Homo sapiens: one gene and its partners. The protein of the gene in region 3 purifies or fractionates together with the protein of the main gene of each other region. This does not show direct contact. Each region holds a gene or a part of one and is shown on either strand. Other genes may lie near its edges.

Region 1 (7,554 bases), on a different chromosome or scaffold from region 3:
TTAGCTAGGCCGGGCGCGGTGGCTCACGCCTGTAAGGCGGGTGGATTGTTGAGGTCAGGAGCTCGAGCCCAGCCTGGGCAACATGGTGAAACCCCATCTCTACTAAAAATACAAAAAAATTTGCCAGGCATGGTGGCACATGCCTGTAATCCTAGCTTCTCGGGAGGCTGAGGCGAGAGGATTGCTTAAACCCAGGAGACAGAGGTTGCAGTGAGCCAAGATCGCGTCACTGCACTCCAGCTTGGGAGACAGAGTGAGACTCTGTCTCAAAAAAAAAAAAAAAAAAAAGAGCTAGCGAAAACATCAAATTCCTTGACTTGTTCACAACCTCACTTTCCATCCAGACCCAGCACTCCTGACCACTCCCAGGCTTTGAGCAGGGAAGGCCTCACCAGCTGCAGAATCCTACTCTCCTCCCAGCGCCAACCCCCAACTCAGATCACAACCCCTGAGTGCAAGGTGAGCCCCCAGCCCCTGTGCCTATGCAGTTCCTGACAAATGCTGCGTCTCAGGTGCCCACACTGGATGGAGCATTCAGGGTCCTGCAGAGCCGGACCACCTTTCCACACGCCCCCCACCCCCAGCCTCACACTACATGCTGCTCACAGACAGTGCCAGTGAAATCACGGGGGAATGAAAGAGGGCCCCGAAAACACCATCCATTATGTATCAAAGCGTGTTTGAGAACCATCTGAGGAAACCACACAGGAAACCACACAACACCAGAAGCGTGCTCTAACCGAGGCCCTGGGTCCAGCTCCTCACCATGAGGAGATGTAATGAACATGGCTTGCGCGCTGAGCACATGCCCACATCTGGCATTCTGAGTGCATGCCCGCACGAGGTCAGGGCATGGTACGGACAAGCACAGTGGAGAGGATAAAAGTAGTCTCGCAGCACAGCCAGATATGACTTCAAAAACTCACACTGGGTCCACCTGGGTGCTCACACACCCTCTCTAAAGGGGACCCCAGTGCTTGAAGGCAGGGATGCCGTGTGACATGCCTGGTCGCAGGTCAGGGAGGGCAGACACCCCAAAAGGCCTCGCAGGGACCACTGAAACCTCTGCGCCAACGGAGAGGGCTCCACACTCTGGACGCATTTTCGCTACAGATGTATCTCAGGCAGAGGCAGCATGTGCGGACTCTTTCCAACTCTGTGCGGTAAGTAGGTAAACACATCAACAGCACCTTTCACTCAGTTACAAAACGATGCACGGTGGGAAACACTAAAGAATCCAGCTGGTGTTTCAGTGACTGACATAACCAAGCACGGTAAAGAACCGCACACCAATAAAATAGACTAAATTTCTGGCTTTAAAAAATTTTCAAAATATTCTATAGTTTCATGACAACTGCAAAGCAGGCTAAGTAGCATTTTTTACCAGATTTCATAAATCAGGAAATCTCATCCTTCTGAGAAAAAAAGTGGCCAAAACAAGTCCTTAGCTCTTGGTCCACCCAAGTGGAATTAACTTCCTCTGTAGGAAGACAGGTGCCAGCAGGTGGCTACAGCCTGAGCCCTGAGCCTGGCCCCCGTCCAGCGTCTCATGTGGAAGCCCCCCAAGAAATGCAGGATTCGCTGCGGTGCTGCAACACCCTCCACCTCAATTTAATTAAGGCGTTTATTTAAAATTATCAATTAACACAGTCGGTAAAGATAAGGAAAAAGTCAGAAGGCACCACCCCATCACCACCCAACTGCAGTGTGGTATCCAAGGCCACAACTTGTGGGTGGTGACCGCAGCTTCAGAGATCAGATCCTTCCATCTTTCACCTTCATCCCGCTTCAGACGCTTTAAAAGTCTGAAAATAAACACTACTGTAGCTTATGTGTTGTCATTCTGAAATAAAGGCAGAGAACTACAAAGAATTTAGTGCGAGGCAAACATTCGTGTGCAGCATGAAGCAAACATACTTACATCTTTTGCCATGTTACCAGATCCGGGAAATCAATGCTACAAATGTTCACCTTCCCAGAGAAGAAAAATGATTTTTCTGGTAAAAAAAAAAAAAAAAGTAAGGAAAAACAAGAAATAAGTAAGAATGAAAAACGAAGTTTAAAAAATAACACATCTCAAAGGAAACGCGGACCTTCCTTCCCAAAGGCACCCTCCATCCTGAGAGCGGAGCTGGCCAAACCGACTCCCACACTCAGGATTTTCAGTCGCCTCGCCAGACGGAAATGCCCCCTGCGGAAAAGTGGCCCGCGGGCCCGCAGGGTCACCACCACTACCCCCAGGTCCCCGACGGCCCGCCCAGCGGCCGAGGGTGGGGCCGAGCCCCAGGAGCCAGGGCGCAGCGCCTCCCTCCCGCCGCTGCAGGGGGGTGCCCCACCACCCACCTGGGCACAGCCCCGGGGTCCCGGCGCAACGTGCAGGCTCGCGGCGTCCACCCCAGACCCCGGCGGCGCCCGCCCGGCTGACCGGTAACTCTGACAGGTGGGCTTCCGGGGTCCGCGCCGCGCGCCTGTCACTAGGCCTCGGGCCGCCTCCGCACGAGGCGCCTCCCGCGCGCGCCGGAACCGGGTCCCCGCGGGCCGCCGTGGGGCGGCCTCCCCTCCCCCGCCCTGCGCGCTCCGGCCGACCCTGGCCCCAGCCCCGGCCCCGGCCCCGGCCCCACCTCCAGCGTGGGGCGCGGACGCTGCTGTCGGCCGGGAGGGCCGGGCCCGGGACCCCCGCCCCGCGGTCACCTGGGGAGCCCCTACCAGCGCCGAGCGCGCGGGGTCCCCGAGGCACAGGAGCGCGCAGGGCGCGGGAGGGCGCGGGTCGGGGCCGCGCGGCGCCTACACGCGGCCGGGGCAAGGGATGGGGTGGCCGGGGGTCCCGCCCGCACCCCCGGCTCCCGCCCGCGGCTCCCGCGGCATCCCCTGCCCACCCGCACCTGGCTGCCCGGTCCGGCCGCGCGGGCGGGGACGCGGAGAGGGCGCGGTGCGGAGCGCGGGGCGGCGCGGAGAGGCGCGGGCTGGGGCCGGGCCGGGCGGTCCCGGCCGTGGCGGGGTCCCTGCCCTGGGCCGAGTGGCGCCGGGACGCGGGGCTCACCCTGGCCGAGCGTCGGGCCGGCGTGACGTGCGCGCGGCGCGGTGACGTGGGCGGCGGCGGGCCCGCTCCGCGCAGCGCGCCTGCGCGCCTTTTCGCGCCTTCGGCGCCCTCCTCCTCCTCTTCTGCTGCTCCTCGGTCTCCCGCTCCTCCCGCCAGTGCTGCGCGCCCTGGGAGAGCGGGGAGGGGCTGTGCGCGCGTGTCCGTGTGTGCGCGTGCGCGTGCGGAGATGTAGCTGGGGCCTGCGCCGGGACGGGCAGTGCGCGCGCGCGGCGTGCGCTCGGCGGCCAAGGGACTGTGTTTGTGCGCGCCTCTGACTGTGTGTGTCCGGAGAGAGAGGTGGCCGGCTGTGTGCAAGAGTGTGTGTGCACATGGGGGAGCGGGGCCGGCTATGTGCACGAGTGTGTGTGCATGTGGGGGAGCGGGAGCTGGTGTGTGCACGTGGGGGAGCGGGGCCGGCTGTGTGCAAGAGTGTGTGTGCACGTGGGGGAGCAGGGACTAGTGTGTGCACTAGTGCATGTGCACGTGAGGGAGCGGGGACTGGTGTGTGCACTAGTGTGTGTGCATGTGAGGGAGCGGGGACTGGTGTGTGCACTCGTGTGTGTGCATGTGAGGGAGCGGGGACTGGTGTGTGCACTCGTGTGTGTGCATGTGAGGGAGCGGGGACTGGTGTGTGCACTCGTGTGTGTGCATGTGAGGGAGCGGGGACTGGTGTGTGCACTCGTGTGTGTGCATGTGAGGGAGCGGGGACTGGTGTGTGCACTCGTGTGTGTGCATGTGAGGGAGCGGGGACTGGTGTGTGCACTAGTGTGTGCATGTGAGGGAGCGGGGACTGGTGTGTGCACTAGTGTGTGCATGTGAGGGAGCGGGGACTGGTGTGTGCACTAGTGTGTGCATGTGAGGGAGCGGGGACTGGTGTGTGCACTCGTGTGTGTGCATGTGAGGGAGCGGGGACTGGTGTGTGCACTAGTGTGTGTGCATGTGAGGGAGCGGGGACTGGTGTGTGCACTAGTGTGTGTGCATGTGAGGGAGCGGGGACTGGTGTGTGCACTAGTGTGTGTGCACATGGGGCAGCAGGTAGGGGGCCGGGTATGTCAGGATGTGTGTTTGTGTGCAGGGAGCAGAGAGTGCCGGCTGTGTGCGCGAGTGTGGGGGGGGGAGCAGGGACTAGTGTGTGCAGGAGTGTGTGTGCACTTGGAAGAGCGGGGCCGGGTGTGTGCTTGAGTGTGTGTGCTCAAAGAGGAGAGCCAGCTGTGTGTGCGCCTGTATGCACGGAGGAGAGGGGGCCGCTTGTGTGCACGAGTGTGTGTGCACATAAAGGGCCGACTGTGTGTGGGGCTGTGCATGTATGGAGAGCAGGTGTGTGCATAGACGTGTGTATGTGGACACACGGAGGAGAGCAGGTGTGTGTGCGTGCGTGGCACAGAGGCCTCTGCCTCTGCTGGACCCGGTGGCCTCCAAGCCCACGACGGGCCTCCGCCCAGATTCCCAACAATTCTGGGCGTCCTCGGTGCCCACCGGACGCAGCCTGGCCCGGGACTCGGGAGGGAAAGCAGGGACAGGAAAACTCCAGAAACAGTTTCATTGCATGGTGAGCCTGGTGGTCCCGGAGTCTTGGAGACTTAATCCACCCTGGAGGGCCCCGCCGCTAGGGCCAGGCCCGAGCACCCCAGCCAAGGGCGGGCTAGGCCAGAGAAGAGTCCGAAGTTCAGGGCCACAGCAGGCGGCAGAGGCTGGTGCGCGCCGAGGGTAAGGAACATCTACAGAGGACTTGAGGAGCTGACCAAAGGCCTCTCTGCCTGTGCGGTGTATTATTACATGACAGCCCACTTTGCACGTTTTATGCTGATTTTGGCCACTCCTGCCCCTCAGGCAACGCCGCACCCCCTAAAGCTCTGGTCACTTGGCTTAAACTGCTTACAAGTTAGCACCCGTTTCTTCTTTGAAGACTACCAGAAACGCTCACTTTCTGCGAGCTGGTTCACACAAATAGATACTTAGAGAACACTGATGTTCCTCAAATGGCCCTATCTTCCTAGGTCCGTTCCTTCTGTTTCACAGGGATTCTTTATGTGTTCCTAAATGTCAGTATTTGAGCCCTGATGGCAACAGTGACACCCTCCCAGCCTCTGGGGACTTCTCCCTGAGACCTGGGGGCTCCAGTTAGGAGGATACACACGTAGGGTCCAAAATTGGGGTCTTAAACGTCTTCCCCACAAATTCAGGATTCTGATAATTCAACAATGTTTATATGGCTGATAACTAATATTATTCAAAGAAGTTTCTGCACAAAAATCACTGTACTGAGATACTCCGAACGCGCACGAGGCACTGCGGCAATGAATGCTCACGGTGCTCTGTGTGGCTTAGGAAAAGGGCAAAAAGTTACTCCCTTTTTCCTCTCCATAGCCACATGTTCCACAGAAAGCCCTCGTTTCTCTTAACAAAAGTTAACAGAATTCCCTCTAAAATTTTGGTTGATGATCCAAATATTTTTAGCCACTGCCTTGCCTTGCAGTCTCTCGATTGGGTTGCTGAAATGCAAACTTCCTAAATAAGCCCATAACCCTCGGAATTTATCTAAGCCTTTGGCCTCCCTGTATCTCTGGAGCCTGGGCTGTTTAGGAGATAGGGTTCTTTGAATGATGCACTCGTTCAGGTGTTGACTTGCACCACATGCCAGAGGCTGGGTTCAGCCCTATGGTTGGGGCCAGATACTGTCTTGTTTTGTGCATGTGGGCACCAGATTCAGCTACCGTCCCAAATATTACATGGAAATGGCCTGTGCTGTGTTTTACTAGAAGTGAACGTGTCCTTCCCAGGAAAAGTCTTCATCTCGCAAAAGCTGTGTGTGTGTCTGCTCCAGAGTCTCCAGGCATGGTGCAAACTCTCCCCACCAATTCCACACCCCCATTAAACTGTCCTCTCTTTCAGAGAGAGAGAATTTTCTAACCCTGTTTTAATTCTAAATCTGCTGATTACATATCCAGATTGTCTTTTGTTTCCCTCCTCGATGACATTGGTCTTTTCTCCAACCATCTCCTATTTTCTGCCTTCTTCCATCACTATGGCAAGAGGCCTTCAGTGGGAGGACAAGCAGGAGGCAGGGACTCATGGAATTTATGGGGAAAGTTAAAAAATAATATTCCTGGATATGCGTAAATGGCATTTTCTTGATCTTTAGTAAAATGTCAATAAAGGCATCTCTAGAAAACTTTGCTCTGTGTATTTGAGTGTATCATAAAACACAGGAAAATCTGTGCGCTTTCCCAACCTCCAGGTCTGTCCCGTGTGGCTCTCCTTTGCTCTCACAGATCAACACTCCTAAGTCCCCCCACCACCCCCAGACACAAAGACATTTTTTGTCTCTCTCCTACTGCGTTATTGCTCCTTTTTAAAATTCCCGGTCAAATCCCAAGTTCTCCCTCTTGGAAGGAAAGTCAGTTGTGATCCTGCCACATTAGCATGCTATAATATTATTTCTGTCTTAAAGACTGTCGCATTCATTTATAGTCTGAAACCACAGTTCTTTCAAAATCACCCCTTGGATCTGACAAATTCTAGAGGATCATATCACCAGATTTATAAAAGTTGAATTTACCCGAATCAACCAATTTTGCCTACTCCTTAGACATGTTCCCTTGCTTTGATCTGGATTCTTTTCTGGCTTTTGTGATGAGAGACCCCTTGGTACCTTGGCCATTGACTCCGAGATTCTCCTGAAGTGTGCCTGCCCTGCGGCTTGCTTCGCTCTGGCTAAGATGATGTCAGGTGATGTCCTGTGGAGTCCCATGATTTCAGGTTGAAAGATCTGTGTTCTCCTGGCGTCATCTCCTTTCCCCATAGCACCCATTTGTCCTCAGCCCAAGGTGAAGCCAGCACCAGGAGCCTACAGAGTAATTTTGTTTGAGAAATGTGGCCTCACATGCAATTGAGTGCCTTTGGGCATTTTTGTGCTGCCTGCCCACTCCTCTTACGGATTCACAGAAGGATCTTAGCATCCACTGACACCAATGCTGAGATGATGGGGCACCACATCACTGTGGATAAGTGATCTTAGCCTCTGTGATGGGCACGTTCCTTTAACTGAGAAATACGTGGATAAAAATATAGTTTGTTAATAAGAAGACGAAACCACAGTTTCGAAACCCTTGCCTTCCCTGCATTCCTCCCTCCGCAAGCATTTCTGAGCTCCTACTAAGTGCCAGACACAACTCTGGGTGCTGATATTACGCAGATTAATAAGAGACTGCCCAGAGTCAAACTGGAGAGACAGATGCACCTGCAATTATAATGGATGTGACCTGGTGGGACAAGCTCATATTCACGATTGGGAAGGGGGGTATGGAAGCACAGAACAATGATTTCTCCGTGCACACAGTTGGCAACACTTCATGGAGAAGGTGACAATTGAGAGAGACTATGACCAGCTGAGTACACAGGTGTGTCTGAGTGTGTGTGTGTGTGTGTGCACAAACAGAAACAGATCAGTTTTGGAAAATGCTCTTAGCAGTTTG
Region 2 (7,032 bases), on a different chromosome or scaffold from region 3:
GTCCTGGAGGGAGGTGGGGGTGTCGGCCCCCCGCCCGCGCCAGCCGCCCCGTCCGGGAGGGAGGTGGGGGGGGGTCAGCCCCCCTGCCCGGCCAGCCACCCCATCCGGGAGGTGAGGGGCGCCTCTGCCCGGCCGCCCCTACTGGGAAGTGAGGAGCCTCTCTGCCCGGCCAGCCGCCCCGTCCGGGAGGGAGGTGGGGGGGTCAGCCCCCCGCCTGGCCAGCCGCCCCGTCCGGGAGGGAGGTGGGGGGGGGGGGTCAGCCCCCCCGCCTGGCCAGCCGCCCCGTCCGGGAGGTGAGGGGTGCCTCTGCCCGGCCGCCCCTACTGGGAAGTGAGGAGCCCCTCTGCCCGGCCAGCCGCCCCGTCAGGGAGGGAGGTGGGGGTGTCAGCCCCCCGCCCGGCCAGCCGCCCCGTCCGGGAGGGAGGTGGGGGGGGGGTCAGCCCCCCTGCCCGGCCAGCCGCCCCGTCCGGGAGGTGAGGGGCGCCTCTGCCCGGCCGCCCCTACTGGGAAGTGAGGAGCCCCTCTGCCCGGCCAGCCGCCCCGTCCGGGAGGGAGGTTGGGGGGTCAGCCCCCCGCCCGGCCAGCCGCCCCGTCCGGGAGGTGAGGGGCGCCTCTGCCCGGCCACCCCTACTGGGAAGTGAGGAGCCCCTCTGCCCGGCCACCACCCCGTCTGGGAGGTGTGCCCAACAGCTCATTGAGAACGGGCCATGATGACAATGGCGGCTTTGTGGAATAGAAAGGCGGGAAAGGTGGGGAAAAGATTGAGAAATCGGATGGTTGCCGTGTCTGTGTAGAAAGAAGTAGACATGGGAGACTTTTCATTTTGTTCTGCACTAAGAAAAATTCCTCTGCCTTGGGATCCTGTTGATCTGTGACCTTACCCCCAACCCTGTGCTCTCTGAAACATGTGCTGTGTCCACTCAGGGTTAAATGGATTAAGGGCGGTGCAAGATGTGCTTTGTTAAACAGATGCTTGAAGGCAGCATGCTCGTTAAGAGTCATCACCAATCCCTAATCTCAAGTAATCAGGGACACAAACACTGCGGAAGGCCGCAGGGTCCTCTGCCTAGGAAAACCAGAGACCTTTGTTCACTTGTTTATCTGCTGACCTTCCCTCCACTATTGTCCCATGACCCTGCCAAATCCCCCTCTGTGAGAAACACCCAAGAATTATCAATAAAAAAATAAATTAAAAAAAAAAAAAAACATTTAAATATCTACAATACTTCAGGTATTTTATTAGCTTCTGGGAATACCAAAGTGAATAAGACGGTCTCTGCCCTGTAGGGCAGATAAGTGTCTAGACAATTATACTACAATATATTTATTCTCCAGGAATAATTACATATACATACAGCCATGCATCATTTAATGACGGATATGTTCTGAAAAATGCATCGTTAGGTGATTTCATTGTCAGAACATCATAGAATGTATTTATACAAACCTAGATGGTACAGCCTACTACATACCTAGGCTATATGGTAGAGCCTATTGCTCTGAAGCTACAGGTGTACAGGATGTTACTATACTGAATGTTGCAGGTAATTGTAACACCATGGTAAGTATTTGTATCTAAACATAGAAAAAGTAGAGTAAAAATATAGTATCATTTTATGGGACTGTATATGTGGTCCCCCACTCACCAAAAATGTCATTATGGAGTGCATGACTGACTCTACATACATAGAATCAATATGATACCAAGGGGTGGAGGGATGGTAATCCTAGAGGGCTTCTTTGAAAAGTACCATATGGTGGCTTACGCCTGCAATCACAGCATTTTGGGAGGCTGAGGCAGGCGGATCACGAGGTCAGGAGATGGAGACCATCCTGGCCAACATGGTGAAACCCTGTCTCTACTAAAAATAAAAAAATTAGCTAGGTATGGTGGCACACGTCTGTAATCCCAGCTACTCAGGAGGCTGAGGCAGGAGAATCGCTCAAATCTGGGAGGCGGAGATTGCAGTGAGCCAAGATCGCGCTACTGCACTCCAGCCTGGCGACAGAGCAAGACTCCTTCAAGAAAGAAAAGAAAGAGAAGAAAGAGAAGAAAGAGAAGAAAGAAAGAAAGAGAAAGAAAAAGTACCATATGATAAAAATAATTCAGTGCTGACACAGCACAGGATTGGGATAAGCAGCAGGAAATGAAGCTAGGAAGGTAGTTTAGGGATAGATTATTATTATGGCCTTGAACACTATCCTAAGGATCTCAGCCTTTATTCAGCAGCCACTAATAGGACTCAATTTTTTTTTTAAATATACAGGGACCAACATAATCACATAGGTTTCAAAAAAGATAATGAAGATCATGTTAGTAGCATTCCAAAGGAGAGACCAATTTGTCCAATAGTTCATGACAGAAGTGATATGGGCTTCTGAACTGTAACTACATAAAAGGAAAAAGGATAGATTTAAGAGACAATCCAGAGAAAGGACATGAAGGAGGACTACAAATTAGAATCAAAGCTGAGACAATGACAGTTTCTAGCTGAGGTTCCAGAAAGGAGTTTATGCCACATACAAAGTAAAGAATATACAGATGCCAAGTTTGGGGAGGCAGAAATGGGTTTCAGAGATATACACAGAAATCTATGAAAAAGGAGTCTTAGAGACATGAAGGAAGTAGAGTTTCAATTTAAAAAGGGCCAAGAACATCAAATACTTTGGAGGCGACATCAACAGATGAGTGAGATTGGGCCACTGAGTTAAACAACTAGGATATTAGTTATCAGGCCTCACACTATAAAGGAAATAAAAAGAATACCTGCTGAAGTAAAGCCATTGCATGTAGAAACCCAAGCCAATAAACTCTAGACCAGCAGTTCACAAACTTTTTGGTCTTAGGATCATTTACACTCTTAAAATTTAAGAGTTTTTGTTTTTTGTTTTTCTTAATGTGGGTCATCTATCAATGTTTACTATATTAGAAATAAAAACTGATAAAAATCTAAATATATTAGTTCATTTAAAAAATAAATACATCACATATTAAATGACATATTTTTATTTTAAAAACTTATTATTTTCCAAAACAAAGATATTTTGTATGAAGAGTGGCATCGTATATTTTTGCAAACCTCTAACATCTGGTTAGTAGAAGACACCTGGATTGTCACATCTATCTCAGCATTCAATTTGTTGCAATATGTTGTTTTGGTCCAAAAATATTAAGAAAATCTGGACTCTCACAGATATACAGTTGAAAAGAGGTAAGTAGTTGAATAGCATTTTCAGATAACTATAGGTGTTATTCTTTGATACTACATAAAAACACAGTTGTTTCTCAAAGGTTAGTTGCAATATGAAATCTGAAACCACATCAATGAAGTTTTCAGTGTTCCCTTAAAATCTGTTGGTATTTTGTACTTTGATGGATTACCCATTACAGTTTTGTAAAATCATACATCGGTAACTAGGAACCATTTGTTTGCTGAGTTATGCGTAGCTTCCAAATGCTGACACATTTCATGGTGAAATATCAGAAATTATATTCATTGATACCACCACTAATCTTCTCAGAAAAGTCTTTATACACAGAAACTCTAAAGCTCATTGTTGCTACAAATTTTCAAAAATTCTAATTTTCACTTGAATGATTATCACTGGCAACATATAGTATCAAGTGTTTTCCTTGAAGTGATATATTTTTTGAATATATTCATTTTCAAGAAAATATATGCTAAATATCCAAGTCTGAATAACTATGGTATTTCAGGTAGTCTTTCAAGTAAAAATGATGCTCTATGACAAAAAGACTAGCTCTGCTTGCAAGACAAACTACACATGTGCTTTCCCTTAACCACTGTACTTTGGTATACAGTAGAAGTGCTTTATGTGTAGTTCCCATTTGGTCAGACAGAATATTTTTAAAAATATGAGATGTAATAAAATTAGTAAATTTTTCTGCTTCAAGGATATTCTTAATTCAAACTGACATTATTCTTACTGCATGCATGTACATGGTGGTGAATATTACAATGAAGATAGCAATTTGGTGCCACTGCTTTGATTCATGCTAAGGTGCTGGCAGTTTTACCCATCACTGCCTCTGCACCATCACAGTGAAAAAGGCAAATAACATCTTCAAATTATTATAAAAACAGTGTGAACCTCATAGAAAGCTTCAACTAAAAAGATCTCAGGGACTCTCAGTGTCCCTCAGACTACACTTTGAAAACCACTCTGATATCCAGACTACACAAACACTAATAATCACTTGTAAAATTTACCCATATACAATTAACCAGTGTGAGTCCTCTTACAGGACAAAAAACAAACAAGTAAGAAATCTCCTAGAATAAGGAGTCTCTGAACAACTAAATGGTTGCTAGAAAGGCTCCTCAGATAGACAGGAGGCGGCTCAGGAACCATGCATTTCTTTAAAAAGGACTTATGTAGATGGTCCTCAATTTTTTTCTCCCATTCCTACACCAAAAGTCTAGAAGAATCAGTGCCAAACCTCAAATTTGAAGACATAAAGCAAGTATGACAAGAAAACAACGATGCTGAAAAGATTTCTACCAGATGATAGTTGGTTTAAGCTTCTTTCAGAATGTGGATTTTATAGCTTACTTTTAAAAGAAGCTGAAATAACTCACTCTTTTTACCTAACCATAATAATAATACTGTGTTCAGTTATAAACAACATATATTTTTAATGAAGAAGTTCCACCTCTTCAGCCTACACATAAAGGAAAGATCTACTAACACTAAACCTCACATATAGAGCTTGGTACAGTTAAAGCGGTTCTAATTTGCAAAACTGTAAAATTTTAAAGAAACAAAAAAATCCATTTTGCTCACCACTGTATGTCTAGTATCCAACTCAGCCCTTAAATAAGATGCTCAATAAACATTTGCTGAATGCTGAATATTGAAATGGTTGATATGAAATGAGATATGAACCCAGGTTACCAAAATCATACTAGTGTAACATCTAGCACTCTTTCTACTATGTGAAATCTTTTTTATAGCTCTCTAAAATAACACCTATGAGAAACCTAAAGGACTGTTATAATATCCTCTAACAAAATGTAACATTACCTGTTACATTTGAAAGCCTGGTATGAACCATTTAGACCACAGTTTGAAACCCAAACCAATAATTCTATCATTTTCATTTCTAAATATTTGCTATCTGAATTAAGCAATATTAAGTAACTGTCCACTACTAGATGAAGTACCAATAAGACACCAGTCTTAAATTAATCATCACACATTGATTATCACCCTCATACAGACTATCCTTAATATTTAATATTTCATTTTCTCTGATGACTCAGAATTTTGTTTTTTTGAGACAAGGTCTCACTCTGTTGCCCAGGCTGGAGTGCAGTGGTATGATCACAGCTCACTGCAACCTCGAACTCTGGGGCTCAAGGGATCCTCCCACTTCAGCCTCCTGAGTAGCTGGGACCACAGGCATGCACCACCACACCCAGCTAATTTTTTTAATTTTTAGTAGAGACGAGATCTCACTGTGTTGCCCAGGTTGGTCTCAAACTCCTGGCCTCAAGAAATCCTCCTGTCTCAGCCTCCCAAGGTGCTGGGCTTACAGGTGTGGGCCACTGGGCCAGCCAAGAATGATCCTTAATTTCCTAAAGTTTCTTGCATTTATATTTGGGACATTTCTTGCCTTATAAGAATCTTCAGATAGGCTGGGCACAGTGTCTCACTCCTGTAATCCCAGCACTTTGGGAAGCCGACGCAGACGGATCACCTGAGGTCAGGAGTTTGAGACCAGCCTGGCCAGCATAGTGAAACCCCATCTCTACTAAAAATACAAAAATTAGCCTGGTGTGGTGGCGGGCACCTGTAATCCCAGCTACCACAGAGGCTGAGGCATGAGAATTGCTTGAACCTGGGAGGTGGAGGTTGCAGTGAGCCGAGGTCACGCCACTGTACTCCAGCCTGGGCGACAGAGCAAGACTGTCTCAAATTCTGCCTCAAAAAAAAAAAGAGAAAAGAAAAGAAAAGAAAAGAAAAGAAAAGAAAAGAAAGAAAAGAAACTTCAGATATAAAGACTGTGCAGCATCTTGAAAATAATGTGTCACCGTGGCATTTTGTTTCCTTTTAAAAAATTTCCTGTCAGTTTGACATTTACTACTGTTTCTCTCACAAAAGCACAATGTAAAAAATTTTGGAGTGAGGGGCTGAAAAATGACCTGTTGGGTATAACGTTCACCATTTGGGTAATGGGTACACTGGAATCCCAATCCCACCACTCTGCAATATACCCAAGTAACAAACATGCACATGTACCCCAAAATCTAAAATAAAATTAAAACTTGAGGAACTGAAGCTACAACAAATCATTTTATTTTGAAATACATGCCATGAATGTAACTTCGTTCTCTAGAAAGACATGACCTACCATGGATATAGCCAAAGGAAATGGGCTTCTGTTGCATAAAGAATTTGAACTTAATATTATTTAAAGAAAAAAAATTATATTGCCAATAAAGACTTTAAAGGGGCCGAATGGTGGCTCATTCCTATAATCCCAGTTCTTTGGGAGGCCAAGGTAGGAGGATCACTTGAGCTCAAGAGTTTGAGACTAGCCTAGGCAACATAGAGATCCCCCATCTCTACAAAAAATAAGAAAATTAGCCACACATGGTGGTGTGCATCTGTAGTTTCAGCTACTTGGGAGGCTGAGGTGGGAGGATTCCTTGAACCTGGGAGTTCGAGGCTGCAGTGAGCCTGGATGATGCCACTGCAACCCAGCCTGGGCAACAGAATGAGATCTTATCTCAAAAAAGAAAAAAGAAAAAAAGAAGACTTCAAAGGTAGAACAAGGACTCAATCTTCTCTGCAGGTCTAAAAAGAAAAAAGTTTTTCAAATGTCTAGAATGGCTTAGACTTGGCCTAACATTTGGCAATGAGGCAGAATCAGTTCAAAGGTCAGTCTGACCCAAAGGATTCAAATCCCATCTGTGCGTCACACAAACAAATCATTAGCAAACTGCATCCTTCTGCTCTGCAGCTATCCAGTCTTGGCTTTAGTACTTGCCAACCTTACTCTGGAAA
Region 3 (7,032 bases):
CCTTAGCAAGTACTCCCAAACCATAGCTATTAATATTACCAATATTATTCTTAGCTCTCGGAAGAGAGGGATCTTTCGGTGCCTTAAGTAAAATCTACAAAATGGGGAAACAATGGTAATTGTCTCACAAAGGCGACAGTGTATGAAGCAGTAAGCAGAAGGATCTGGGACACAGCAATTTCTAATAAACATCGGTGGTGCTCAAACTTCGCTGCACATTAGGATCACCTGGGAGCTCTTCCAATCTCTGTCCAGGCTACACACCATCCCAGTTAAATCAGAACCTTTCGGAGTAGGACCCAAGCATCAATATATTTTACATAATATTTTCCCCCCAGGCTGGAGTGCAGTGGCACGATCTCGGCTCACTGCAACCTCCACCTCCCAAGTTCAAGCGATTCTCCTGCCTCAGCCTCCCGAGTAACTGGGACTACAGGCGTACAACACCACGCCTGGCTAATTTTTGTATTTTTAGTAGAGACGGGGTTTCATCATGTTGGCTGGGATGGTCTCGATCTCCTGACCTCGTGATCCGCCCGCCTCGGTCTCCCAAAGTGCTGGGATTACAGGCGTGAGCCACCGTGCCCGACCAGCATCAATAATTTTTAAACTTTCCAGGTGATCCCAACATGCAGGCAAATTTGGGAAGCAGTGTTGCAGATGCTGGTCCCAGCTACTGGGAAACAAGGTAAGATGAGGCCCCTGAGATGAGGTTCCAGCCTCAATTCCGCCATTCTCCTCCTACAGAGCCACACTAGGTATGTCATTCTACCTCCTTGGACCTCAGTATACTTATCAATAAATGTGTGGGTTCAACACCACATCCAAGAATCTTTCCATCTCTAAAGATTCTATAAATATCAGTAATTTAGAAAATTGGCAAGACTTTCTAGGTAGCTGCCTGTGACATGGAGTCCGAGGAGGCATGGTCTTCCTGAAGCCACCGTGGCTGGTGAACCTTGGGCCTGTTTCCCAACTTCCTTTGAAAGGATTTATAAAAGTGTGGGGTGAAGACCAAGGGTGTCAGACTCCCCCATAGTTCTTGTTTAAAATGTACTGAATACACCAGACTCTGGGGGATGATGGTAGGTAATGGAGCGTAGCTTCAGGAACCTATAATTTAAAAAGCTCCACAAATGGATTCTACTGTCCTCTGAAGTTTGAGAACATAATAAATACCAGCTGGCCACAAGCAAGGACCTTTTCAAACTTTCCTGGCCCTGGCCTTCAGTCACTTGGTGGTTCCTGTCTCAGCACCAAAGGCACCGGGAAGGATCCAAGTGATTGCCTCTCACCTGTAACCTAGCCAAGATACTGGCTTTCTTGGAGTTGGAGGAGTAGCTCCTGGAGCAGGAGACGCTGCAGAACCTCTTGGTCTTGGAGAAGAAGGCTTCCCTTGTACCCACGATACCACACATCTCACAGACAGCTGGGAAGAGAACTTAGCACATGACTCACCCGATATGACCACCTCAAAGCAAACAAAGTGATGGGCCCTTCAAAACCTGGGGCACTGCATTAACCAGGTGAGCCCCTGCCCCCACAAAGGCTAATGGAATAAGAGGAGGAATGGGAGGTACTGGTGTGTATATCCTGAATCTACCTGAATGAAGTGCTGCTGCTTGGCCTCCCTTGGCTACAGATGTCAACAGAGGGGCTAATGGAAATCCATGAGGACGACTGGGGGAACAGGTGAGTGTTGAAAAGTTTGTCAGAGGAAAGTGAGAAGAAACTAGGCATGGTAGCTCCTGTCTGTAATCCCGGCAGTTTGGGAGGCCAAGGAGGGAGGATTGCTTGAGGGCAAGAATTTGAGACCATCCTGGGCAACATAGCAAGACCTTGTTGCCCAAAAAAAAAAAAAAAAGGCCAGGTGTGATTTGGCGGGGGGAAACTGCCTGAGCCCAGGAGGCTGAGGCTGCAGTGAGCCATGACTGCACCACTGTACCTCTAGCCTGGGCAACAAAGTAAGACACTGTCTCAAAAAAAAGCGAAAAAATTTATAGGAAGAAAAAGTGCCAAAGTCACTTAACCTCTGTGGCTCTATTTTCTCATCTATATAGTAAAGGGACTGAACTAGATCAGTGTTTTATTTATTTATTTTTGAGACGGAGCCTTGCTCTGTCACCCAGCCTGGAGTAGTACACTGGCGCAATCTTGGCTCACTGCAAGCTCTGCCTCCCGGGTTCACGCCATTCTCCTGCATCAGCCTCCCGAGTAGCTGGGACTACAGGCACTGCCACCACACCCAGCTAATTTTTTTGTGTTTTTAGTAGAGACGGGGTTTCACCATGTTAGCCAGGATGGTCTCAATCTCCTGACCTTGTGATCCGCCGTGTCGGCCTCCCAAAGTGTTGGGATTACAGGCGTGAGCCAATGCGCCCAGCTAGATCAGTGTTTTAATCGTGACTTCACTTTTTTTTTTTTTTGAGATGGAGTTTTGCTCTTGTTGCCCAGGATGGAGTGCAGTGGCGCCATCTTGGCTCATTGCAACCTTCGACTCCCGGGTTCAAGGGATTCTCCTGCCTCAGCCTCTTGAGTAGCTGGGACTACAGGCATGTGCCACCACGCCTGGCTAATTTTTTATATCTTTAGTAGAGACGGGGTTTCGCCATGTTGAGCAGGCTGGTCTTGAACTCCTGACCTTGTGATCCTCCCGCCTCGGCCTCCCAAAGTGCTGGGATTACAGGCGTGAGCCACCATGCCTGGCCCGTGACTTCACTATTAGACCCACCTGGGGAGCTTTTAAAAATGCCTGAGATGGCCGGGCGCGGTGGTGGGCGTCTATAATCCCAGCTACTCCGGAGGCTGGGGCAGGAGAATCCCTTCAACCTGGGAGGCGGAGGTTGCAGTGAGCTGAGATGGCACCACTGCACTCCAGCCTGGGCAACAAGAGTGAAACGCTGTCTCAAAAAAAAAAAAAAAAAAGCCTGAACCTAAAATTCTAATGAATTGGTCTGTGACGGGATACTGGTACCTGTAGTTTGTTAAAAGCTCCCCTAGATGATTCTAATGTGCAGAACCCCTGGTCTAAGTGGTCTCTAATGGTTCCTTCTAGTTCTAAATCCTAAGATTCTAAGAGAAGGGCTGGAAGAGGATAGAAGGGAGAAAGATAAAAGGCAAGGGATGAAAAGAAGACAATATAAATAGAAAGGAAGTAAGGCCGGGAGCGGTGGCTCACGCCTGCAATCCCAGCACTTTGGGAGGCTGAGGCGGGCGGATCACGTAGTCAGGAGATTGAGACCATCCTGGCTAACACGGTGAAACCCCGTCTCTACTAAAAAATACAAAAAATTAGCCGGGCATGGCGGAGGGCGCCTGTAGTCCCAGCTACTTGGGAGGCTGAGGCAGGAGAATGGCGTGAACCCGGGAGGCGGAGCTTGCAGTGAGCCAAGATCGTGCCACTGCGTTCCGGCCTGGGTGACACAGCGAGACTCTGTTTCAAAAAAAAAAAAAAAAAAAAAAAAAGGCCGGGTGCGGTGGCTCACGCCTGTAATCCCAGCATTTTTGGAGGCCGAGGAGGGCAGATCACAAGGTCAGGAGATCGAGACCATCCTGGCTAACATGGTGAAACCCCGTCTCTACTAAAATACAAAAAAAATTAGCCGGGTGTGGTGGCAGGCGCCTGTAGTCCCAGCTGCTGGGGAGGCTGAGGCAGGAGAATGGCTTGAACCTGGGAGGCGGAACTTGCAGTGAGCCAAGATCATGTCACTGCATTCCAGCCTGGGTGACAGAGCAAGACTCCGTCTCAAAAAAAAAAAAAAAAAGGAAATAAGATTCAACTGCAAAGAGTATTAGATTACTCTTCTAACGAGTTTGGGGCTGGGTGCGGTGGCTCATGCCTGTAATCCTAGCACTTTGGGAGGCTGAGGTGGGGGATCACTTGAGCTTGGGAGTTCAAGACCAGCCTGGGTAACAGGGCAAAACCCCTGTCTCTACAAAAAAAAAATACAAAAATTAGCCAGGCATGGTGGCGTGCACCTGTAGTCTCAGCTACTCAGGAGGCTGAGGTGGAAGGATTGCCTGAGCCCAGGAGGTCGAGGCTGCAGTGAGCCATTTTCACACCACTGCACTGCAGCCAGGGTGACAGAGTGAGACCCTGCCTCAAAATAAAACAAAAAAAGTTTGGGATCTAAAGGATGGCAGTGTCCTCACAGACTATCCAGCCTGCCTCTCTTCACAGGCAGCCCACACATGGGAGGCCCTGACACAGGGGTTCAGCAGCTGTCCAAGCATCACATTTCCAAAGTCAACTGGCTTCCAGATGATCCATAGGGATTCTCATCTGCCCGCCCCCAACCCAGTCCTCCTACCCAGGGTCACTTTATCGTGTATTACCTTCCCACTCCCACCCTGACTTCCAAACCACAAGTTATTTGTCCCTTCTCAGAAAGTAACCAAAACACTTTAGGTTTCCTATCTTCTCAACATCCACGTTGGAAATCCATGGTATACTTATACAAAAAAGCAGCACCATGCTACTCAGTGGCATCTAATCTGTGCTGAATACACATTAGTTATATGAAAGAATGAGTGAAGTCACAATTTGAAATTAGACTAGGGCCGGGCACAGTGGCTCACTCCTGTAATCCCAGCACTTTGGGAAGCTGAGGTGGGTGGATCACCTGAGTTCAGGAGTTTGAGACCAGCCTGGCCGACATGGTGAAACCCCGCCTCTACTAAAAATACAAAAGTTAGGCTGGCGCGGTGGCACACGCCTGTAATCCCAGCACTTTGGGAGGCCGAGGCGGGTGGATCACGAGGTCAGGAGATCGAGACCATCCTGGCTAACGTGGTGAAACCCTGTCTCTCCTAAAAATACAAAAAATTAGCCGGGCGTCATGGCGGGCGCCTGTAGTCCCAGCTACTCAGGAGGCTGAGGCAGGAGAATGGTGTGAACCCGGGAGGCAGAGCTTGCAGTGAGCCGAGATCGCGCCACTGCACTCCAGCCTAGGCAACAGAGCGAGACTCCGTCTCAAACAAACAAACAAACAAAAAAATACAAAAGTTAGCTGGATGTGGTGGTGGGTGCCTGTAGTCCCAGCTACTTGGAAGGCTGAGGCATGAGAATCACTTGAACTCAGGAGGTGGAAGTTGCAGTGAGCCGAGATCATGCCACTGTACTCCATCCTGAGCAACAGGGCGACACTCAAGTCTCAAAAAAAAAAAAAAAAAAAAAAAGAAATTAGACTTCAGCAAAGGAAGTTAACACAGTGGCTACTTGGGGTGCTTCTGTCTCCCTTACAGGTCCTTACACATCTGATCCCTTAGAAATCAGAGTTAATAGCCTTTTACATCTGGATGGCTCTGCCCATATAGCCTATATCCACCCCCCTCTTCCTCTATAATCTTCTATCTCCTCTCCATCCTCAGGGGACACTCTGAAGGCACCTGGCTCAGAACCACTGCCATCCAAGGAGCGAGGAGTCCCAGGGCTGAGCAAATGCAGCGGGGAGGTCGGCAGTTCCCCTGCTTCCCGATCCTCATTTTCTGCTTCACTTGACTCCTCCAGATAGGAGCTGCTCTCACTGCCCACACTGCTGTTATAACTCCGGAAACTATCATAGCCACCAAACAGCTCCAAGTCGTCATCTTCCTCTTCCTCCATTGGTTCTGAAGATGGGGTCTCCTAATGGAGGATGACACAAACCAGGTAGAAAGAATTATGATTGGCTTTAGTGCACGGGGGGAGAAGCTGCAGATCTGCTATCAGCCCCCTCACACTTTCGGGAACCTTTCAAATACCCCTTTTACAAACACCAAGATCATTACTTCTATTTACACATTTCTCCACCATGATGCAATTCAACAGCTTAACAAGACAGAAAATATGTGTTAGGAATTCACCAGGCTCCTCTGTGGATTTACAAATGATGATATTTTAACATGGTTCAAATAGAATACTGTATAACAATGTGGGCCAGGTGCGGTGGCTCATGCCTGTAATCCTAGCACTTTGGGAGGCCGAGGCTGGCAGATCACCTGAGGTCAGGAGTTCGAGACCAGCCTGGCCAAGAGGGTGAAACCCTGTCTCTACAAAAAAATACAAGAAAAAATTAGCCAGGCGTGGTGGCGGGCACCTGTAGTCCAGCTACTTGGGAGGCTGGGGCAGAGAATTGCTTGAACCCAGGAGGCAAAGGTTGTAGTGGGCCAAGATCGTGCCACTGCACTCCAGTCTGCGTGACAGAGCAAGACTCCATCTCAAAAAAAAAAAAAAAGTGAAATATCCTAAGGTACTTCACAAAGACTTTCTGGGGTAGAAGATATATTAGAAATTAATTCTTAGCCAGGCACAGTGGCCCACACCTGTAATCCCAGCACTTTCCGAGGCCAAGGTGGGTGGATCACGAAGTCAGGAGTTCAAGACCAACCTGGCCAAGATGGTGAAACCCCGTCTCTACTAAAAATACAAAAATTGGCTGGGTGTGGTGGCGGGTGCCTGTAATCCCAGGTACTTGGGAAGCTGAGGCAGAGAATTGCTTGAACCCGGGAGGTGGAGGTTGCAGCGAGCTAAGATCGCGCCACTGCACTCCAGCCTGGTAATGGAGTGAGATGCTGTCTCAAAAAGAAAAACAAAAATTCTTCCCCGTTCAATATACATCAAAATGATCTCAACTCAGAAACAATTTAAGTCACAGAAAAGTTAATTTGGGACCTAGACTGCTCCAAAGAGGATGGGAGAGGCAGATGACACACAGATAACTGTGGCATCTTGGTGTGTACTACAGCGCTAGATTCAGCTCTGAGCCTAACTAGCTATAGGGCCTTGGGCAAGTCATTTAACTTCTGTGGGCTTCAACTTTCTCATCTATAAAATAAAAATATTTGACTCGTGAGATGCAAATGAGATAATGTATATGAATCTACCCAGCATGTAACAGAAAACGTGTGAAGAGCCTGGGTACGGTGGTTCACATCTGTAATCCCAGCACTTTGGGAGGCTGAGGCAGGTGGATTGCTTGAACCCAGGAGTTTGAGACCAGCCTTGGCAACACAGCCACACCCCATCTCTACAAAAGAAAAAAAAATTAGCCA
Region 4 (7,000 bases), on a different chromosome or scaffold from region 3:
GACATAGTGAGAAGTGACCAGAAGACAAGAGCGTGAGCCTTCTGTTATGCCTGGGCAGGGCCACCAGAGGGCTCCTTGGTCTAGCGGTGACGCCAGCGTCTGGGAAGACGCCCGTTACCAGGCGGATCATGGTCCAGCAGTAGCAAAAGGCGTCAAGGAACAACACCCGCTACTTAGCAGACCAGGAAAGGCGGGGGGGGGGGGGGGGTCTCCCTTTCCCCGAGGGAGTTTAGAGAAGACTCTGCTCCTCCACCTCTTGTGGAGGGCCTGACATCAGTCAGGCTTGCCCGCAGTTATCAGGAGGCCTAACCGTCTCCCTGTGATGCTGTGCTTCAGTGGTCACGCTCCTAGTCTGCCTTCATGTTCCATCCTGTACACCTGGCTCTGCCTTCCAGATAGTAGTAGTCAATTAGTGAAAATACTAATAGTCCCTGATATGCAGAAATAATGGCGTAAGCTGTCTTTCTCTTTGTCTCCTCTCCCTCTCTGCCTCGGCTGCCAGGCAGGGAAGGGCCCCCTGTCCAGTGGACACGTGACCCACGTGACCTTACCTATCATTGGAGGTGACTCACATTCTTTACCCTGCCCCTTCTGCCTTGTATCCAATAAATAACAGCGCAGCCCGACATTCGGGGCCACTACCAGTCTCTGCGCATTGGTGGTAGTGGTCCCCCGGGCCCAGCTGCCTTTTCTCTTATCTCTGTCTTGTGTCTTTATTTCTACACTCTCTCGTCGCCGCACACAGGGAGAGACGCACCGACCCTGTGGGGCTGGTCCCTACAGGTCTCAAACTCCTGACCTCAGATGATCTGCCCGCCTCGGCCTCCCAAAGTGCTGGGATTACAGGCGTGAGCCACCACACCTGGCCCAGTGGGGTCCTTCTAAAATGCAAAGCTGATCATGTCTCTTCTTCCAGGCTTAAAGCCCTCCCATGGCTTCCTGCAGCCCTGGTGCACGCCTTACGCCAAGCCTGAAAACACTCTGCACACCCACCCCTTCCCTGCACAAACGGGCCTCTGCACACTACCTGCCCCGGCCATGCCCCCGCAACCAGCCCTCTCTGCTTATCTACCTTGGCCTTCTCTCTGGTCAAGCCCCAGGCCCGTCCCTGCCCCTAGGCCTTCACTTAGAGCCTCAGAAGCACTTCTTGCAGGAAGCCCTCCAGACTCCAGAATGGGTCCAGAACCTACTTCCTTTTCGTGGCATTTCTGTATTCTTTTTTTTTTTCTTCCATAGAGCCAGGGTCTCACTGTGTTTCCTAGGCTAGTCTCGAACTCCTGGGCTCAACTGATCCTCCTGCCTTGGCCTTCCATAGTGCTGGGATTACAGGCATGAGTCATTGCACCCGGCCTCCACAGTCTTAATTAATTGGTTGGAGCATTATTTGCATTAATATCTCTCACCACCCTCCCCATTCCTGTCCAAGACCTCAGGGAGGGCCAGGCCAGATGTATCATCTGCACCAGGGAGTCCCCTGCAGGGGCTTCCAGATGTCTGCTAAATGAACACACAGCTCTCTCTGGCCAGTCCAAGGCACCCCAGGAGGCCACCAGAAGCCTGCAGCCTCCCTCCCTCCCTCCTGCTAAGCCCAAGGAATGAGCACTGAGCAGGGAATGGTAATCTGGACACATCCATACTCTGCCCTTCAGAAACTACCTAGCTGTCACCCTGCACGAAACAGGCACCAGCCTGAGAGTCAGGAGGCCTGGGCTCTGGGTCCACCTAGACAGCTGTGGGGCGCAGGACCAACCGCACCCCAATCTCTAAGCCTGGGTTTTTCCATACGTAAAAAAATGAGGGCAGGGCGGGTTAGACACTAGACCAGATCTGTGATGACAGGCCCGTTGGAAGGCTGGAGGCGGGGCCCCTCGCTGAAGGAAAATGCCTTACCTCCAGAAGTGGCCCGCCCTGGAGTGGCCAGCAAAGGGGGCATTGCCCCTGCGCTGGAATACACCCAGAAGCAGGGTGTGAGCAGGAGCTGCGGAGACCTTCAGGGACAGGACAGTCTAGGGAGGGGGTGAGCCCTTTGCAGATCTCCTGCTTATGCCAGGAGAAAGGTAAACACCTCTCAAACACACAAGGAGCCAGGGGGCTGTGGGCTGGAACCTATAGCCGGCAACAGCGTATAGCTTAGGATTTTATAGCATTGTTCTACCCTAGTTATGTTTCCTATACTTTTGTTTGTTTGTTTGTTTGTTTGTTTGTTTGTTTGAAATGGAGTCTCACTCTGTCGCCCAGGCTGGAGTGCAATGGCACGATCTTGGCTCACTGCAGCCTCTGTCTTCCAGGTTCAAGTGATTCTCCTACTTCAGCCTTCCTGAGTAGCTGGAATTACAGGCACCCGCCACTAGGGCCCAGCTAATTTTTGTATTTTTAGTAGAGACGGGGTTTCACCATGTTGGCCAGGCTGGTCTTGGACTCCTGACCTCAAATGATCTGCCCTCCTCAGCCTCCCAAAGTGTTGGGATTACAGGCGTGAGCCACTGCACCCAGCAATTTCTTATACTTCTATGAATGGCAATTAACTTAGATAGTTTTTAGAATGTCAGGTTATGATATGATGTTTCCTTTCCAAATAAATGTAACAGAAAGGAAGCTCACTCATTCAAAGCCATGCTCTCCCACACAGTCACCCCACAGCCTCAGGAGAGCACCTGAAACTGGCGGGGCTGAATTGAGAGGTCAGTATCAGATACACACCAGATTGTGAAGATTTTGTAGTTTTTAAAAAAGGAATGTAAAATGCCTCATTTTTTATATTGATGACAGGTCGAAATGATAATAGTTTCATATGGGATTGGGTTAAATAAGTTAGTAATATTAATTTAGCCCATTTCTTTTTACTTTATAATGTGGTTACCAGAAAATTTTAAATTACATATATGGCTTGTATTTTATTTCTACTGGGCAGTGCTGATTTTTTTTTTTTTTTTTTTTTGAGACAGGGTCTCACTTTGTCACCCAGGCTGGAGTGCAGTAGTGTGATCATAATTCACTGCAGCCTCTAACTCCTGGCCTCAAGCAATCCTCCCACCTCAGCCTCCCAAGTCCCTGGGATTACAGGCATGCACTATCATGCCCTGATAATTTTATTTTTATTTATTTATTTTTTGAGACAGAGTTTTGCTCTTGTTCCCCAGGCTGGAGTGCAATGGCGCAATCTTGGCTCACTGCAAGCTCTGCCTCCTGGGTTCAAGCGATTCTCCTGCCTCAGCCTCCTGAGTAGCCAGGATTACAGGCATGCACCACCATGCCCGGCTACTTTTTTGTATTTTTAGTAGAGAAGGGGGTTTTGCCATATTGGCCAGGCTGGTTTCGAACCTCTGACCTCAGGTGATCCACCCACCATGGCCTCCTAAAGTACTGGGATTACAGGTGTGAGCCCCCACGCTTGGCCACACCAATAATTTAAAAAGAAATATTAAGCTGGGCGCAGTGGCTCACGCCTGTAATCCCAGCACTTTGGGAGGCTGAGGCGGGCGGATCACCTGAGGTCAGGAGTTTGAGACCAGCCTGACCAACATGGAGAAACCCCGTCTTTACTAAAAATACAAAATTAGCTGGGCGTGGTGGCGCATGCCTGTAATCCCAGCTACTCTGGAGGCTGAGGCAGGAGAATCGCTTGAACCTGGGAGACGGAGGTTGCAGTGAGCTGAGATCGCGCCATTGTACTTCAGCCTGGGCAATAAGAGCGAAACTTCATCTCAAAAAACAAACAAAAAAGAAACATTAAGTAAATGATAGTACTGGTAGTGTTTGGGCATGGCAAAAATCCCTTCGTTGATAAAAGAATATTTGAAGTTTGGGAAACGCTAAACAAGTCCATTCCCGCCCCCCTCATTTTACAGATGAGGAAACTGAGGCATAAAGGGAGTGTGACCTGTCCGAAGGCCCAGACTGAGCCAGAGCAGGTGGCACTGGGGCTGACACCCAGGGTCCCCTCCCGCCCACTCCCATCCCCACCTACCACTCACCTTTCGATTGGGGGTGGTAGAGGAGGAGGTCCGGGCCTGTTTCTGGGGGTTCCGTCCTGAAAGGTTGAACTGGGAAGGGTTCATGGGGACCCCAACAGGAGGAGGTCCCAGCAAGGACTGGCGAGTGGCCTGGGGAAAGAACTGTTGCAAATTTGGAGTGGCCAGTTGTGGGGGTGTGAGGCTGGGGGCTGCGAGGCCTGGGGATGCCATGCCATAGCCTCGGAGGTTACCTGCAGGCAAGAAGACAGGAGAAGAGGGGTCACAATGTGGTCGGGTGGCAGAAGGTAGGGTCAGGCATCAGTGCCCCAGAGCATCATGGGAACATCCCAGATAATTGAAAGGGACCTTCCCACCCAAGGGCAGCCAAAGGGAAGAGATGAGAGCTGAGGCTCAGCCCCATCTTGGGCACTGATGGTGAAGGAAGCTTTAGGGCTCTTTTCTGCCCCAGCTAGGGGTGGGGGTGTTGCCTTTAGCATTCCCCAAAACTCTGCTCACCCTCAGGCATGCTTTAGAGTCTGCCATAGAGTAGGTGAGAGACTTAGCACAGCCCATAGGGAGAACCAGCAGGAGGGCTGGTCCCTGGGATAACAAGACACCCACCCCCACCCCTACCAGCTACCCTTTATCAGCAGCAACTATGAGTCAGGCACTGTGCTAAGCCCATTCCTCACACTGCCTCAGTCCCTCGGCCCAGCAGGTTTCAGGGTGGGTGTTATCTCTACCGATGACAAAACGGAGACAGAGTGGAGGTGCAGCTTGCCCAGGGTCGCTACGAGGGACACTGCCATCCACCTACCGCCCCAGCCAGGATTCTGGGGTATTCCTCATTCCTCCCTCTCTTTGCCCTATTCCATGCAAGCCATCCCCACATACTATCAACTCTGTCTCCTATGCCTCTTCCCAATCTGACTTTCCCGCTCCATCCCCACTCCCACTCCCTGCCTCCTCCCAAAACCACTTGATCCTTTGCCTGAATTCCAGCCACAGCTTTTGCACAAGATGGCAGCAAACAGCGATCTTTCGCAAACCATATTCTGAGTTCATCTCTCCCTTCTGCCCAAACACTTCCATAGCTCCCTGCTGTTGGGTAGCAAAGGCCATTCCTCACTGCATGGTCTGGCCCTTCCCACCTTTCCAGCCTCCTTTCTTGCCATTCTCCCCACATGTCCCCACTATATTCCAGTCACATGTCCCTGTGCCGTCCTTCAGACATCCTGCCTCAGGGCCTTTGAATATGCTGTTCCCTCTGCCTGGGCTGTTCTACCCACTGACACCCTTCAGACCTCCCTATAGGTATCTCTCCTCCAAGAGACCTTTGCAGACTGTGTCCCCAAAGGCCCCAGCTTCCAATTATTCTAGGACGAGCTACATACTTCATACTTTCCTTGTCTGCTTTTTTTTTTTTTTTTTTGAGAGGGAGTCTTGCTCTGTTGCCCAGTCTGGAGTGCAGTGGTGCGATCTTGGCTCACTGCAACCTCTGCCTCCTGGGTTCAAGTGATTCTCCTGCCTCAGCCTCCCGACTAGCTGGGACTACAGACGCCCGCCACCACACCTGGCTAATTTTTGTATTTTTAGTAGAGACAGGGTTTCACCATGTTGGCCAGGCTGGTCTCAAACTCCTGACCTCAGGGTGATCCGCCCACCTTGGCCTACCAAAGTGCTGGGATTACAGGCGTGAGCCACCACATCCAGCTCCTTATCTGCTTTCTGCTTCACATCATCTAACTCAGCTCTGCACCTCAGGGGAAGCCCAGAGCTTGGGAAGTATTTAAGGGATGAAAGGCAGTTGGAACTCTTGCCCCAGTGCTGGGATGGGAAGCACAGGGGTTAAAGGTTAAAGCATGGCGTGCTGTGAGCGCTGGGTTCAAATCCAGACTCTACAGTGCAAGCTCTGTGACCTTGAACAAATCACTTCCCCCTGCTTAGCCTGATTTCCTGATCTGTAAAAAGGGGATAATAATAGCACTTGCCTCACAATGTTTCATGAGTATTCAATGAGATATACAAATGTGCCTGGTACATAGTAAATGTTCAATTAACATTAACTTGAAACAAATACATATACACATATGTGCAGAGAGCCAACCAGCTCTTAAAAACAATAAGACAAAAGATGAAACAACCTAAAAGAAAAATGAACAAAGGACATGGACAAGTCACAAAAAGAAATAAAATGTTCAACAGACAAATATAAAATGTTCAATTGCACTAGCACTCTAAGAAATGTAAAACATTCATGACATAGCTTCTTTTTGCCAACCAACTTAATTATATGTATATATACATTTATATATATATATAAAAAGCATATAATACCCAGTGTTGCTGTGGGCATGGTGAGACCGGCAGTGTCATACGTGGCTGGTGGCATTGCAAACTGGTCCAGTCCTTTAGGAAAGCAATTCGGCAATACTTATCAAGAGCCATAAAACATCCATCCCCCCTGACTCAGTGAGAAAACAATCTCAAACAACATATTCATCCCAGGGTTACTTAAAACAGCAAAAAAAAAAAAAAAACCCAAAACAAAACAAAACAAAAAATTAAAAAAAGCAAAAGAAAGAAAAAAGCAAAAAAAAAAAAAGGAAAGAGCCAAACAGCTAAGAAGGTTTAGATAAACAAAGGCATAGCCCTCTGGTGCAATATTAAACAGCTATTAAAAATAATCTTAACACAGATGATCAAATCCTATGGTAAACGATCATGCCATTCTATTCAGTGACAAAGAAACAGGGTACAGCCTGGGACTTATATCAATCACAATCATCAGATACAAATCCCCAAGTCTGTGCCTAGAAAAAAAATGGGATGAAAGAGACAAAAATGCTGACTGGTGGTTTTCTTCAGGTGGTGAGTGAGTCAACAGATGACACTGTGGGTTTTCCTATCCCCATTTTTAACCTTTTTTTCCACTTTAAAGAGTGTGACTTTTATTCTTTTGTTTGTTTTTGAGAAAGGGTCTTGCTAAGTTGCCCAGGCTGATCTTGAACTCCTGGCCTCAAGCAAATCTCCTGTCTTGGCCTCCC

Evidence for each region.
Region 1: the proteins of L3MBTL2 (region 3) and TFDP1 purify together in Homo sapiens (affinity purification with mass spectrometry; 5 studies listed by BioGRID and IntAct, with this or other methods). This does not show direct contact.
Region 2: the proteins of L3MBTL2 (region 3) and YAF2 purify together in Homo sapiens (affinity purification with mass spectrometry; 6 studies listed by BioGRID and IntAct, with this or other methods). This does not show direct contact.
Region 4: the proteins of L3MBTL2 (region 3) and CIZ1 purify together in Homo sapiens (co-immunoprecipitation; 3 studies listed by BioGRID and IntAct, with this or other methods). This does not show direct contact.

Annotation. Positions count from the first base shown.
Region 1 is NC_000013.11:113,580,217-113,587,770, reverse strand, and holds the start of TFDP1 (transcription factor Dp-1), read right to left. Parts: upstream 3,019-7,554; 5' UTR 2,883-3,018; exon of another isoform or gene 2,094-2,882; intron 1,998-2,093; 5' UTR 1,934-1,997; coding exon 1,922-1,933; intron 1-1,921. UniProt on the Homo sapiens protein: Can stimulate E2F-dependent transcription.
Region 2 is NC_000012.12:42,228,231-42,235,262, forward strand, and holds part of YAF2 (YY1-associated factor 2), read right to left. Parts: exon of another isoform or gene 2,992-7,032; intron 1-2,991. UniProt on the Homo sapiens protein: Binds to MYC and inhibits MYC-mediated transactivation. Also binds to MYCN and enhances MYCN-dependent transcriptional activation. Increases calpain 2-mediated proteolysis of YY1 in vitro.
Region 3 is NC_000022.11:41,208,290-41,215,321, reverse strand, and holds part of L3MBTL2 (lethal(3)malignant brain tumor-like protein 2), read right to left. Parts: intron 6,201-7,032; exon of another isoform or gene 5,627-6,200; coding exon 5,389-5,626; exon of another isoform or gene 5,371-5,388; intron 1,693-5,370; exon of another isoform or gene 1,430-1,692; coding exon 1,296-1,429; exon of another isoform or gene 619-1,295; intron 1-618. UniProt on the Homo sapiens protein: Putative Polycomb group (PcG) protein. PcG proteins maintain the transcriptionally repressive state of genes, probably via a modification of chromatin, rendering it heritably changed in its expressibility.
Region 4 is NC_000009.12:128,181,573-128,188,572, forward strand, and holds part of CIZ1 (cip1-interacting zinc finger protein), read right to left. Parts: intron 6,363-7,000; coding exon 6,291-6,362; intron 4,205-6,290; coding exon 3,975-4,204; intron 1-3,974. UniProt on the Homo sapiens protein: May regulate the subcellular localization of CIP/WAF1.